Linked DNA regions of Homo sapiens. The protein of the gene in region 1 interacts with the protein of each later gene in a pairwise test. Each region holds a gene or a part of one and is shown in the gene's direction. Other genes may lie near its edges.

Region 1 (7,025 bases):
GGCGTGGCCCGTTAATCCTCCCTAGAGCCTTTGAGGCTTTGCTGAGCAGGACCGGCTAGCCACACAGGGAGGCGTGCAGGGACGCCATGGGCGTCCTTTGGGGTCACACTGCATTGTTCATCCAGTTCACGTCCACTCCCCTGTGGCTCTGAGTGGGCTGTGATTTGGCCATGACCGGACCTCCCCTCCCCACGAGCATCCAGAGCACTTGTTGACGGTGTGATGACACTGAGCTTGGGAACCCTGGACTCCCTTGCCAGCATCCATGGCAGCCCTGACCCCTGACTCCGGTGTCGGGCGATTCCTGCTGTCCCAGGGCAGTCGGCACGAGCCCTACCCGGATCTCTGTTGTCCTGAGCTTTTTAGGGTCACAGGGGCCATAGCAGGCAGCTTGCCGTCCTCACACAGAGGGTGGAGTGGGGAGGGGAGCAGAGGGTGGCCGCCCCGTGTCTGACAGTGAAATGGTCCTGCCTTCCTCTCCCTGCCCCTCCAGGCGATCACCCCCCGATGGGCAGAGTTTCAGGAGCTTCTCCTTTGAAAAGCCCCGGCAACCCTCACAGGCTGACACTGGCGGGGACGACTCGGACGAGGACTATGAGAAGGCAAGGCTGAGCGGCAAGCCTGGGTCCCAGTGGCCAGTAGGTGGACAGGTGGTGGGAAAGCCATAGGCCAGGGCGGCCCCTCACAGACCGTCCTGAGCAAGGACCCCCCGAGAACCCGGGAGCCTAGGGGGACACAGCACCATGTAAAGCCCCGGATCCCGGCACCGGGTGGCCACCGTCCGGGGAGTGGTGGTGCGGGTGGATCACTCCGACGTTGGCACTGACACCGTCAGCCTCTTGCAGGTGCCACTGCCCAACTCGGTCTTCGTCAACACCACGGAGTCCTGCGAAGTGGAAAGGTCAGCACAAAGCCCTGTGTGTGCTGGGTCCTCCGCCATGCCCGGCTTCCTGCTTCTGTGTCCCTCTCACTAGCTTCCGTGTTGGGGAGTTGCTGGCACAAGTTCATGGCCCTGCGTGCAGCAGAAACCAGAGGAGTGGACCTCCCTGCTCTGTCCCATGCCCAGCTGGCACCCTGGCTGGCCAGGGCTCTGCTGGGCTGCTTCTGTCAGCCTCACGGCAGCCCGACGTGCTCAGCTCCTGAGACCTACAACAGCGAGAGGACAGAAAGCCAGGCTTGGGAGCGGGGCGGGAAGGTCCGTGTGAAAGCTGCCCGAGGAGGACTCACCCGCTAATATGACTGTCTTATTTTAGGTTGTTCAAGGCTACAAGCCCCCGGGGAGAGCCCCAGGATGGACTCTACTGCATCCGGAACTCCTCTACCAAGTCGGGGAAGGTAGGCGCCAGGGGAAGATGCCCCAGGGCCCCTCTGGCTCTCCACACACCCAGGCTGTGGGTGGGCCCAGGACTCCACAGTTCCTAAACCACTCCCCTTGTGGACTCTTACTTGGTGTCTCAGCTGAATTCTCTTCCCAGCAGCACCCCCCAATCTATTCCCTAATAGATCTCCATCTGCAAATTGGGGGCCATGATGGCCACCTCCCAGTGGGGGCCAGGACTCGGGTGGGGTAGGGCTCATGCTCTGGGGTGGCGGAGGCCACATGGGGCAGGGGAACGCCAGGTCTGCCCGTGTCCCTCCGAGCGTGAAGTTGTGACCTCACTGAGCCATGCTCTCCCGGGTGTGTCGGAGTGGTTATTGGTGGTTATGAGCTGTTGCTCATCAGAGGCTCTCTGAGGGCTGCCAGTGTCGCCCCCGCTGTCCTTGTGCAGGTGGTCTGGAGTCCCTCCCCGCCCCCCGAGGGCCACAGGACCCAGCCTTGATGGTTCTGCCCCCCTATCCCCAGCCCATGGTCTCCCGAGGCTGGTCCCGCTGTTTCTCAGGGAGCCGTCAGCCTCCCGCTTCCGTCCTGTAGGTCCTGGTTGTGTGGGACGAAACCTCTAACAAAGTGAGGAACTATCGCATTTTTGAGAAGGTGAGAGGGCTCTGAGTGGGACGGGGACCCTGGCCGCATGGCCTGGCAAGGGGCAGGGCAGAATCTCCCTGATGAGGCATAGGCAGCGGGTAGACTGAGACTGGCACCTCCAGGATACCGCCCTCCCCTTCCCCTCCACCATCGCTCACCCCCCACCCCTCCTGCTCAGCCTCCCTCCTCTCGTGGCCTACCTTTGTCCTCCACTGACCCTAGTGGGGATGGGCGGTCAGCCATAGACCCTGGGTTGCTTGTCTTGTCTTTTTCTTTTTGCGGGGACAGGGGTCTCACTGTCTTTCTCAGGCTGGTTTCAAATTCTGGGGCTCAAGCAATCCTCCCACCTCGGCCTCCCACAGTGCTGGGATTACAGGCGTGGGCCACCGTGCCTGGCCTAGGTTCATTTCCTGACCTTGTCTGAAGTGCTCTGGGTGCAGGCTCCTGGACATGGAGGACGGAGGGGAAGTGAGGTGGGAACATGGAGAGCACAGGCCTGATGCGGAGGCCACCTTGGGGGCACCACCGACAGCCAGGGGCCAGCCTGGTGATGCCGCTGTTGATGCTGCTGCCTTGTTTTACAGACGGGGAGACTGAGGCCTAGAGCCGCAGAGTGGCCTGGCCCTGCTGACGCTCCCCCTTCTCTTCCCCCACAGGACTCTAAGTTCTACCTGGAGGGCGAGGTCCTGTTTGTGAGTGTGGGCAGCATGGTGGAGCACTACCACACCCACGTGCTGCCCAGCCACCAGAGCCTGCTGCTGCGGCACCCCTACGGCTACACTGGGCCTAGGTGATGGCAGTCCATGTGGCTGCCAGGCCAAGGCAGTCACAGGGGCCCTGACCCCAGGCCACACAGACGGACATGGGCCCACATGGGAGGGTGAGCAGGAGCAAGGCTGTGCTTGCCTAGGGCCTCTGTGATGGACATCTCGTAGGACCCAGCCAGTCTCATCCAGCAGGTTGGGTTCTAGGGCTGAACCAGGCGCCAGGCTCCAGAGGACGAAGGGACTCTGTTGCCCCACACTAACTTGCCCTGTCCCAATCCCAGAAACCCAGGACCAAGCTGTGCCTGGGCTCCAAGGACAGGAACACTGGTCCCCCCATCACACTCACCCCTAAGTGGGCTGGGAGCCAGGCAGGGCCAGGGCAGCTGGGTGGGGGCCGGGGCTGGCCCTGGGACCCCCAGGAACGCTAAGACACAGGCTCCAGTAGGGGCTGTTGCCTCCAATAAAGCAGCAGTGAGCTTTGCCTTGGTGGCTGGGGCTTGATTGGGAAGGAGGGGATTACCAGCTTACTGGGTGCCCATGCTGATGTCTAAGTGGTGACCGCAGCAGTACCCGGGAACCCCAACAGTTGGTTGTCTTGTCTTCCAGGGTGCAGGTCACTGAGTGACTTCCCCAGGGTGCACAGCGAGTAACAGATCAGGACCCAAACTTGGGCAGTCTGGGCTGGGAGCCCACACCCCACTCACCAGTTCTGCTGCCTCAGGTCAGGCCAGGGCAGTGCTGCTGCAGAGCTAGAAGGCCCTGCAGCTACAGCTGCTTCATTCCCTGCATTAGTGCCTGGTTACTGGGTACCTCCTGAGTGGCTGTCCCCGTTCCAGAACTTGCATACACTGAGCGGGCTACAGAGCTAGAAGGCCCTGCAGCTACAGCTGCTTCATTCCCTGCATTAGCGAGCAGTTATTGGGTACCTCCTGCATGCCTGGTCCCATTCCAGACAGGGGCCTCTGGCCTGGCTGAGTTCACAGCCCAGTCTGGGGACAGCTGGGTATGAGGTGCTTACGGCACAGTGTCCAGGGCAGCTGGGTGTGCAGGGACTGGGGGCTCCCGGAAGATTTTTTGGAGGAAGTAACAGCTACGATGGGATGGGAACAGTGGACCCTAAGCAGGCCAAGGGTGCGTAGGGACGGTGGTACCCAGATGCCCAAGTCTTCCAGGCAATACCTGGCTCAGGCCCAGCCCCAATCCATCCCCTTACTTTCTGCCATGGAGTTCCAGCAGGTCACTCTCCCTGGCACACCTTCCAGGCTGGATTTTTAATGAAACAGACTCAGGGAGGTAGGGGCTGGCAGGGACCCTAGAATCCTTGTGATTTTTCTTAGCACCTTATGTCAGGGAAACCTAAACTGAGGTCAGCACTTGGGCCCACTGACAGTGACTGACTGGGGGAGAAGGTCCTGCAGCCCCCTTCCCCTGGGTGTGTTCTGGGGACCTGTGGTTTGCTGGCGGAAACAAGTGATGAGGCTGGTTAGCGGATGTGGGAGGCTGTGACCCCAGGGGGCCATAGGGTGCGGTGGAACTGCAGGCCCTGCAGATGACGGCAGCCAGCTGCTTCCAGGAACCAGGTGTCCAAGGCCACCTCTGCAGGGGTTTCCTCTTCAGCCTGCCTGGGGTGAGAGGTCAGTGCACCACAGCCGAGGCTGGAGCACAGGGAGCTTCTGTTGTTCTGATCTATCTCTGGAAAACCAGCCATTCCTCCTCCCTGCAGTCAGAATTCTTTGCCCTGTCTGACCTGAACTTGCTTAGGGAGTCATGCCACTCCCCACTGTGGCCATAGTTTCTCTTCCTGTAAAATTTTATTATTTTAGTTTTTTGTTTTTGAGATGTAGTCTCACCCTGTCGCCCAGGCTGGAGTGCAATGCCGTGATCTCCGCTCACTGCCACCTCCGCCTCTCTAGTTCAAGCGATTTTCCTGCCTCAGCCTCCCGAGTAGCTGGGATTCCAGGCGCCCGCCACCACGCCTGGCTAATTTTTTGTATTTTTAGTAGAGACGGGATTTTATCATGTTGGCCAGGCTGGTCTCGAACTCCTGACCTCAGGTGATCTGCCCACCTTGGCCTCCCAAAGTGCTGGGATTACAGGCATGAGCCACTGTGCCTGGCCCCTTCCTGTAAAATTTTTAAATGGAGAATTGGGTGCGAGATGTGGTTTCCAGCCTGGTGCCTGGGGTGCTGAGCTAGTGAGTGGTGCAGTCCAGGACACCTTTGCTTTATGTCACTTACACGGTCACCTGGAGCCGGCTCAAGTGGCTAAAGCATCCTGGGGCCCAGAGCCAGGTGATAGGTCCCTCTGGCCAACTGGACAGTTGAGGCCTGTGGTTACCCGAAGCCCAGCTGGGGCCCTGGTCCAGCCTCGCCTCCCAGACTCTGCACCTGCTAGCACAGCTGTCCACGTCTGTGTGAGCTGCTCTAGGCCGAGGGCCTCAGTTTCAAGAGTGTGTTGGGGTGGGATGGGGCAGGCCGTGGTCCTCCAGCATGAAGAAGGAGCCATGAGGAGTTCCCATGACCTCCCGAGACTTGCCATAAGTGTTCTAGTCCACATATAAGGGTAGGGTTGGGATTACCATTTACTGACCACATCTGTGAGGTGCCGAGCTGGGTGCTTGACATCATTTGCTTGGAGAAGCAGCTGCTAGTAGACCCATTTTACAGGTGAGAGAACCAAGTCTCACAGAGGCCTGGGTTCAAGTCCCACCTCTGCCACTAACTGGCATGTGACCCTATCTATCCTTCACTGCTCTGAGCCTAGACCCTGGCCCCTGCCTGGCTCCCTGCCAGGCTCCCTGCCACCCCTCACGACCTCTGATGGTCGTTGTGGGGGTCTCTTGCCTGGCTCCCAGGGCTAGGGTTAGGGCTCTGGAGGTGCTTTCACTCAACCAAGGGGGCCACAGCACTGGGGAGTGAAACTGCCCCGCCTCACCCTGCGTTGCCCTCTGGGTCTGTGAGGGTGGGCTGGCAGGAGGCCTAGGCCTTGCCCTAGGGGCAGTCCTGCTTCCTCATTTTATAGATAGGGAAACTGAGGCTTTGGGAGGACTCACTGACATACCTACCTTCAAGATGAGTTCAGGTGGGCTCAGTTCTGGGGCTTGGGAAAAGGGCCCCAGTGGCTTTGGGAAGCACCCCCAGCCCAGGGTGAAACATGCTTCTTCTCTTCCTGTGGTTCCATCCGAAGGATTGTGGTGAGCCCCGTGCCTTCAGTTAATAAAGATTTGTATTGTGAAAAGATTTTTTCTTTTTTTTTTGGGACACAGTCTCACTCTGTCGCCCAGGCTAGAGTGGATTGGCGTGATCTCGGCTCAATGCAAATCTCCAGGGTTCAATCGATTCTCCTGCCTCACCCTCCCATGTAGCTGGGATTACAGCTGCCTGCCAAATTTTTGTATTTTTAGTGGAACCGGGGTTTCACCATGTTGGCCAGGCTGGTCTTGAACTCCTGACCTCAACTGATCCGCCCACCTTGGCCTCCCAAGTGCTGGGATTACAGGCGCGAGCCACGGCGCCCAGCCTTGAAAAGATGTTTTTAGAACCAGAAGAAACCTCGGTTCCCACTGATCCTTCTGGGCCACGTTGTGCGGAGCTCCCCTGCTGGTTGGGGCTCAGCGCAGCCCCAGGGAGGTGCTTCCTGCACCTCAGGATGGGCGAGGGTGGGCATTGGGGGAGAGGGGGACCTGGGACCTGCGGCTTAGTTCCCTGAGGCAGGCAGGGCTTATTGGGGCCATTTCATAGAAAGGCAGATTGAAGCTCAGCAGGGAAGAGGCTTTTGAGGGTGATCCAGGCGCTGGAGGGATGGCCTAGGACACCAGGGTCACACCAGGAACATGGGAGGGCCGTGCTTGTCTCTAGACGAGGGGAATGGGGGAAGGGCCACAACCTCTGTTTCTGTGACCCAGCAGCATCAAGCCCCTCGCTGGGCACCTCGCACACACCCCCTGCCTTATCTCTGCCTGCACGCCCTGTTCCCTCCACCTAGACTGCCTGCTGAGGGGGCAGTGCCAGGAGGTTGCCTGTCCTTGGGGAAGAGGGGCAGTGACCCTGTGAAGATGCTTGACAGACAACCCCCACCACCTCAGAAGTGTGTGTGAGTGGTGAACCCTTTTAAGCCATCTTCCAGCCATTCTCACTGGAGGGAGATTTGATGGGTACAGAGCAGACCCCTACCTGTCTACCCTCCTTCGGACCCCTAGGAAGCTTCGCAGGCCTTCCAGGCTGCCAGACAGCTGCCCTGGCGTTGCCGTCTGCTTCTTCCCTGGCCCCACTCTGAGGGGCTCAGAGCTGAGGCAG
Region 2 (7,025 bases), on another chromosome or scaffold:
CTTTTGGACCACGAATTCCCAGTTTGGTCTACACAGGCTCGCAGCTCTCACCTGTCCTGCTGTAGCCTGAATGCTCCCATGTGGGAATAGCACCCCACCACCTGCCCAGTGTCTGCCTCTGCTCCGTGTCTGGGGTGAGCACCCTCACCCTGAGACTGTGGCTGATGATGATCAGCCACCAGGAAGAGGCTAAATGTTAAGATGGGACTGAAGTTGGAGCCTTCCTGCGTTCCAGTTCCTCTAGGAGAGGCCAAGGGCTGCCCTGCTCCCAGCTTCAGGGAGCCTCTGCCTACATGGGATGGCCCACTGTGTGGCGTCAGGTACCTGGCACCCACTGAGCATCCGGGGAATTAGGTCCCTCCTGTGCCCCAGAGCTGCTAGGCAGACTGCTAGGCGGTTGACTCAAGGTGTTACCTGCTAGTGCCTGGGGTGAAGGCTGCATGGAGCCCAACCTTGCTCCTGGCCTTCCTGTGCTCAGGCCTCTCCCCTTTTCGCCAGGGCTTCCTGGTGCCTCTCCCATGAAGAGGGAACTTCCCCTCCACTCCCATGGAAGACCCAGGTTTGGGCTGTTGCCAGCTTTGAGGCCCCCTGTGGGCTTGCCTGTCCCAACCCAAGAGGCAGGGCTCAAAGTGCCACCCGGGGGTTGCAAGGACAGCAGAGGACCACCTGCCCTCTGCAGGAAGCTGTCCAGGAAGCCGTGTCCTGGGCTGTGGTCCTTGCTCCCCATGGGGAGAGCTGGGTCACTTGGCCTCTTCTAACTGGCCCCAAGCACGCCAATTCTGGAGCATGGTTACTAAGTGGCTCTGAAGCTTCAGGGTCACCACAGGCTTGTCCTGACTGCAAACTCATGGAGTGGTTGCAGCCCTGGCTCAGTGTCCTGATGACTAGGTGTGGGTACTAGGCTCCTGCCCCTGGTGACACACGTATGGAGTGGGGGAGGGTGGGTGGCTGCACCCCTGGTTCTGGAGTCCCCACAGCTGATGGCGGTGTGAGCCTGGCATGCACGGCTGCGCTGGACTCCAGGCTGTTGGGGGAGGTGCCTTTATTGCCCAAGCCCACCCCTCACTTGGCCTTGCCCTGGGCAGCCACAGCCTCCATGGCCTTCCGCACCGTTTCCTCATCACCCAGGAACTGCATGGGCTTGGTGGGCTTCAGCTCCTTGTTCAGCTCATACACAATGGGGATCCCCGTGGGCAGGTTCAGCTCCATGATCGCCTGGTCTGACATCCCTATGCCGGAAGGAATAGGTGTCCTTAGCCCCTCTGTCCCCAGCCTGTTTACACAGCAGACACTATGTGACCTTTATGGTCCACAGAGCCAGTTCCCCTGGCACCAATTCCTTCCCAGCCCTGAGAACGAGGCCACAGAAATGTTGCCAAAGGTCAAGGAGTAACTGAGTTAGACCAAGCAGCCTACAGAAATAGCCCAGTGGTGAAAAAAATGGGGACTTCAGCCCCACCCAAGTGGCTGTGATCTGTGGTGGTGCTGTCCATAGTTCCCTCAGCCCAGTGTGACTCCAGCCAGACTGAAGTTGAGGGTCAGGAAGGGACACTCACCCTTTGTTTTTTTTTTTTCTTTTCTTTTTCTTTTTCTTTTTTTTGAGATGGAGTTTTACTCCTCTTGCCCAGGCTGGAGTGCAGTGGCACGATCTTGGCTCACTGCAACCTCCATCTCCTGGGTTGAAGTGATTCTGCCTCAGCCTCCCAAGTAGCTGGGATTACAGGTGAGCGCCACCACACCCGGCTAATTTTGTATTTTTAGTAGAAACGGGTTTTACCATGTTGGTCAGGCTGGTCTCAAACTCCTGACCTCAGGTGATCTGCCTGCCTCAGCCTCCCAAAGTGCTGGGATTACAGGAGTGAGCCACCGTGCCCAGCACCCTTTGGTTTCTAAAGTGCTCTAAATTCTAGACATCCTGAACAGAGGAGCAAGTGCGGAATGGAGCTGGAGGAGGGACAGGGAGGCCGAGCCTGGTCGAAACCTGACCCTGCCTGCCTCCTGCAGCCCCTGAGCTGGGAATAGCAGCTCGACCTTTGATGTTCGCGCCACTCCACCCCTGCTCCGTGCAGGAGGGTTTAAGAAAATGTTCTCTGGGGAGTCAGAGTGAAATCCCTCATATTCACCACCAAAAGTGCGTCCCCTTTCCCCAAACCAGGCTGTGGGAGGGTCATGGGGCTGCATGAAGTCTCCGGAAGGGAGAGGAGGCAGGTGGTCCTTCCCTCTGCCTGGCCCCAGTGCCAGGTGCCAGGTGTCCGTGTTTGGAGCGGGCAGGCTTGGGGCTGGCTGGGTCTCCGGGGCCTGCCGGTCTGGGTGCTCTGGCCAACTGCCCAACGGCCCTAGGAGCAGGAGGTCTGGGGCACACCCTTCTAGCCTTTCCAGGACTCAACAAGCTTTAAGGTCATTCAGATGCTAATTTAGACTGCCCTTGTGTCAGAATACTAAGGTGGGAGGCGGAGCGGAGGTGCCAGTCACTCTGGGCGAGGCCTTACTGCGCCCATGCATCCCGGGCCCATTTGTCAGCCCTTGCTCTTCAGTGGGAGCCCAGCTGCAAGCCCAGAGTCTGGCCACTCCATAGTCCTGCACCCCTCTTTTGATTGGTCTTTCCTTTGCCCAGAGAGGGGCTCCAGAGGGAGATAGGTGGTGAAGCTCATGCAGGGATTCTGAGGACCTGATGGGGGAGGGCCCTGCGAGGGGTCCAAGCCTACATCAAGAGGAATTCAGTACCAGGGGGAGCTCCCCACCACCCCGGAAAAGGGAGAGGCCCAGAGATGGAGGTGGCTTGTCCAGGGCCCCACAGTAAGTTGGGATTTGGAGCCAGATGCTCTAAGCCCAGCCCTTCCGTTTCCTAGCTGGGTGTCCCTTGGCAGATGCCACCTTTGGAGCCTGCCCCACCTCGGGACACAGCGAGCTTCGAGTGCAGTCAGCCCCTGTGGAGTGTGTCCCAGTTACACAGAAATGGGGAAAATTTCACAAAACTAAAAAATGGCTTCTCAGCCCTCCTTTTTCAGTGAATGATGTGGAGCCCCACGCCTAGAAAGCCTGGTCCATGGGCGAGAGACTTTGCTGAGATGAGAAGCCAGCTGGGGCTGCTGCCCACCCACCCTGCCCAGGCTCCTGAAGGTGGCCTCACCTTCCAGGTGCTTGACAATGCCCCGCAGGCTGTTCCCGTGGGCTGCAATGAGCACTCGCTTGCCGGCCTTGATCTGGGGAACAATCTCCTCGTTCCAGAAGGGCAGGGCCCGGGCAATGGTGTCCTTGAGGCTCTCGCAGGTGGGGAGTTCCCCGGGCTTCAGGCCTGCGTACCGACGCTCCTGGGGGACACAGGCACGCTGCTTTCCCTCCCAAGCCAGTGGGCCCCCACCCGACTCCCCACTCTGCAGCTTCCCAGAGGCCTTCCCAGCAAAGGCAGCCCACCTTGCTAATGGAGTTGTAGTAGGGGTGCTTCTCGTCCATCGGGGGCGGCGGGATGTCGAAGGAGCGCCTCCAGATCTTCACCTGCTCCTCCCCGTGCTTGGCGGCCGTTTCTGCCTTGTTGAGGCCTGTGAGGCCCCCGTAATGCCGCTCATTGAGGCGCCAAGTGCGCACCACAGGCAGCCACATCTGGTCCGTGCCGTCCAGGATGGCCCAGAGGGTGCGGATGGCCCGCTTCAGCACTGACGTGTAGCAGATGTCAAACTCCATCTTGGCATCCTTGATGGCCTTGGCTCCCCGCTTGGCCTCCTCGGTCCCCTTTTCACTCAGCTCTGCATCGAACCAGCCACAGAAACGGTTCTCCTGGTTCCATGTGCTCTCGCCGTGCCGGACCATCACGAGGCGGTGAGTGGCCATGGTGGCAGCAGGGACCACAGAGGACTCTGGACGGGGACGGCTGCTTCCCAACACTCCCAGCTTTATAATAGTGTCTTCCCAGCCCCCACCCACCCCAGCCAACTGCCAATCAGCATTCCAGGCGGTGGCAGGTGACCAGTAGCTGAGCTGCTGGGGGCTGGGGGCCAGGGGAGTGTGCAGGCCAAGAGGCTGTGCTTAAAATAGCCCCACGCATCCACCAGCTCCTGGCCTGGGTTCAGGTGGCATGTCTATAACCAGCTGGCACCCAGAGCCCAGACTGAGTGGGGCTGCTGGTCAGGGATGGGCGTGAAGGGCAGAAGTCTGGGCCAGGGGAGATGGGGATAGCAGGGACAGAGGGGCTCTCCAGGGCAACGCTCAGTGGCCTATCAGCCATTCTCTGCTCAGACAGAGGCACAAACAAAATCCCAACCCCTTTCTCCTGTGATTGGCAGCCAGGCTAGGAGGCGGCCCTCAGCAGGCAGAGGAGGAGAGCCAGAGGAGCTGGTGCAGACCACAGCTTTGTGGAGAGGAGTCTGGCCTTGTGGAAGGTACCAGGCAGCAGCAGCAGAATGGGCAAGGGCTGGGGCTGAGCCGGGTTTCCAGGACAAAGGGGGAAAGGGCCCCTGTCTTTCCTCCGGGGTCCCTTTGTCAAGGTCTCATCCATACATGCCCCATGCTCCCACCCTATCTGCCCTCACCCAAGCCACGCTCACTCTCCTAGCCGAAACCACCTTGAAAAAGAGAAATCCAAGGGGGTTTGGGGGCAGGACTGAGGACTGTCAGAAGTCTTGATTGTTAGGTAAATGCTCAGCTTAGCAGGAACCCACAACGTAGGCTGAAGGGTGGCACGGAGTTGAGTCTAGGACCAAGACTTCTGCATTCAGGTTTGGGGGATGAGAGCCACCAAGGCAGGGAAGAGACTATGAGCAATAAAGTCACAATTGGGGCCCTAATGAAGGGGCCATGGCCAGACCCTTGGGCATGGGCCCCATCCAGGGCCTCCCATTTCCTCCCACCCCAGTGACCACACTGTCACCTGCGACACTTCTGATAACAGGAGCGGGTAGGTGAGAGGCCAGCAGAGGGACCACCACTCTGAGACTTGGATCTGAGTGTGCAAGAAACCCTCGACAGGCCTCCCTCCATCCCTGCTGGCCTACCTGGGGAGGGGCTCCTGGCTTGGGGCCTGTGAAGCTAAGGCTCTGTACCCAAAGGTTGGCAGACAAGTCCCAGTGGGCAAAGTCCTGTCGGCTGCCAGGACCCCCAAGGCTGGCAGGTGGAACCCATCCCTCCTAGCAGTGCCATGCGCAGGTCTCACTGTTCCACACTGATCCTGATTGAAGCCACATCTCCTCATCTGCTTTTGTCCCTTTGACCAAGAGTTGATTCACTAGCCCAACTAAACATGACTGAGGACCAGGCTCTGGCAGTCCCACAGGGGCCAGACATGAAGCCCATATTTCAGTGGAGGAGGGATCGTACCAGCAGCTAAACATGCCTACCGTAGATAGCACCAGATGCTAGGAAGGAAGGACCATAATGTACTGGGAGAGATGGGAAAGGAGAGGCCGGGGACAGCCCTGAGGTGACATGTGAGTGGAAAGAGCGGAGTGCAAAGGCCTCAGCTATGATGAGTCCTACAGGGAGAGCAATTCAGGTAGAGGGGTTGGCAAAGACCCAAGCCCTACAGAAAGCAAACAAGCTGGGGCAGCGACCATCAGGGGCACATGGCAGAGAGGTGGGCTTTGTGTCCCAACACAGTGGGAATCACTGGAGACTTTGAAGCATGGTCATATTTTCAAGTCACTTGCAGCTGTGTAGGAGTGGAAGTAGAAGCTGAGTACCCTGCAGGTCTCGGCAGCTTTGATGAGAACAAGGCCGCTTAGCCAGGGCTGGGTGCAGAAGCAGTGGCAAGGATCCCCCAGACCTGGGAGACCTCACTGCCAACCAAGCAGGAGGTGTCAAAAAGGAAAGGGGAGCCCAAAGAAGGGCTGGACTTCGGGGAAGCAAGCCCCTGCTTCTGACCCTTGGCTCCGGCTTGACTTTCCTTTGATTCATTTGACAAGTAGTTGCTGGCCTCTGCAGTGTGCCAGAGCTTTCTTGGAGGGGTACAGGGGTAGGAAAACCAAAAGCCACCCTCAGGGCCTCCATCCAGGAAGGCATAGCATGGTGGGCGGCGAGGAAGGCTGCTGAGTCAACAAGGTGGTCCCAGGAAGGTGGAGGGAGCATCTTCCCATGTCTCTCCCACTGACAGCCACCAATCCTGGACAGATGCAGGAGCAGCTGTCAGTAGACAGATAAGAAAAGGAGATCAGATTCAAAGTTCCGCAGAGAAGTGGTGAGGTAACAAGTATTGCCTAGCCTGGACACACAGGCGGCTTGAAACCTCAAGTGCACCAACAGAAAGAGCTCCAGGAAGAATCAGAGGAGTGGGATGTGAAGCCCCTCGAAGTCAGTGAGTTGGGGGAATCCCTCCAATTTTTCTTTTCTTCTCTACCCCAGCTCCTGGGCAGTAACATGGAGGTGGCAGTGGTGGCACAGTGACGGTAGTGTGAGCTGGGTACGCACTTGAAACCTGAGAGGGTAACGCTACCCTCTGTCTAGAGGAGCCATGGCCCCAAAAGCATGGGGCAACCACCTTCTGCAGCTCCTTTCTGCCCCCCTGCGCTGGGCCCTGGATGCAGTTTCAGGGAGTATGCAGCAGGGTAGGTAGGGAAAGAGCCCCAGATTTGTGGCTGGAGGTCTTGGTAGGGATGTTGCAGGGAGCTGTTGTGTTTCAGGGAGAGTACAGAGAAGGGAGAGATGAAGTGAGTGATCCGATAAAGTGATATGTGAAGTCATTGGCTTGCTGCCAAGCTGCGCACAGGGCTGACCCTAGATGCACATTGCAGGTCCCAGACTGACCGGTGTAGATACAGGACTAATATGACTAGTAGTGCAAACACTTTAAACAGTCAACATTCTGCTTAGGATTTAAACAAGGTCCAGAGTCTCAACATAATATTTAAAATATCCAGGTTATCCAAAATAACCCAGTGTATGAAAACCAGGAAAATCTTAACATGGGAGAAAAGAAGATGATCAATACATGCCCATCCTGAGATGATTCAACTATTGGAATGATCAGATACAGACTTCAAAGCAGCTATTTATAACCAGCCTTCAGAAAGTATTGGTGAATATTCTTAAACAGAATG

The links. Proteins that work in one complex are often made in the same cells at the same time.
Region 2: the proteins of SH3BP2 (region 1) and DBNL interact in binary tests that used the Homo sapiens proteins (3 or more experiments, as listed by UniProt).

The regions. Positions count from the first base shown.
Region 1 is NC_000004.12:2,831,078-2,838,102, forward strand, and holds part of SH3BP2 (SH3 domain-binding protein 2), read left to right. Parts: intron 1-493; coding exon 494-602; intron 603-845; coding exon 846-901; intron 902-1,253; coding exon 1,254-1,335; intron 1,336-1,912; coding exon 1,913-1,972; intron 1,973-2,619; coding exon 2,620-2,757; 3' UTR 2,758-7,025. UniProt on the Homo sapiens protein: Binds differentially to the SH3 domains of certain proteins of signal transduction pathways. Binds to phosphatidylinositols; linking the hemopoietic tyrosine kinase fes to the cytoplasmic membrane in a phosphorylation dependent mechanism.
Region 2 is NC_000007.14:44,061,702-44,068,726, forward strand, and holds part of DBNL (drebrin-like protein), read left to right. Parts: 3' UTR 1-1,062; coding exon of another isoform or gene 1,063-1,229; 3' UTR 1,230-3,130; coding exon of another isoform or gene 3,131-3,311; 3' UTR 3,312-3,414; coding exon of another isoform or gene 3,415-3,828; 3' UTR 3,829-7,025. Other genes in the region: PGAM2 (phosphoglycerate mutase 2), read right to left, coding at 1,063-1,229, 3,131-3,311, 3,415-3,828. UniProt on the Homo sapiens protein: Adapter protein that binds F-actin and DNM1, and thereby plays a role in receptor-mediated endocytosis.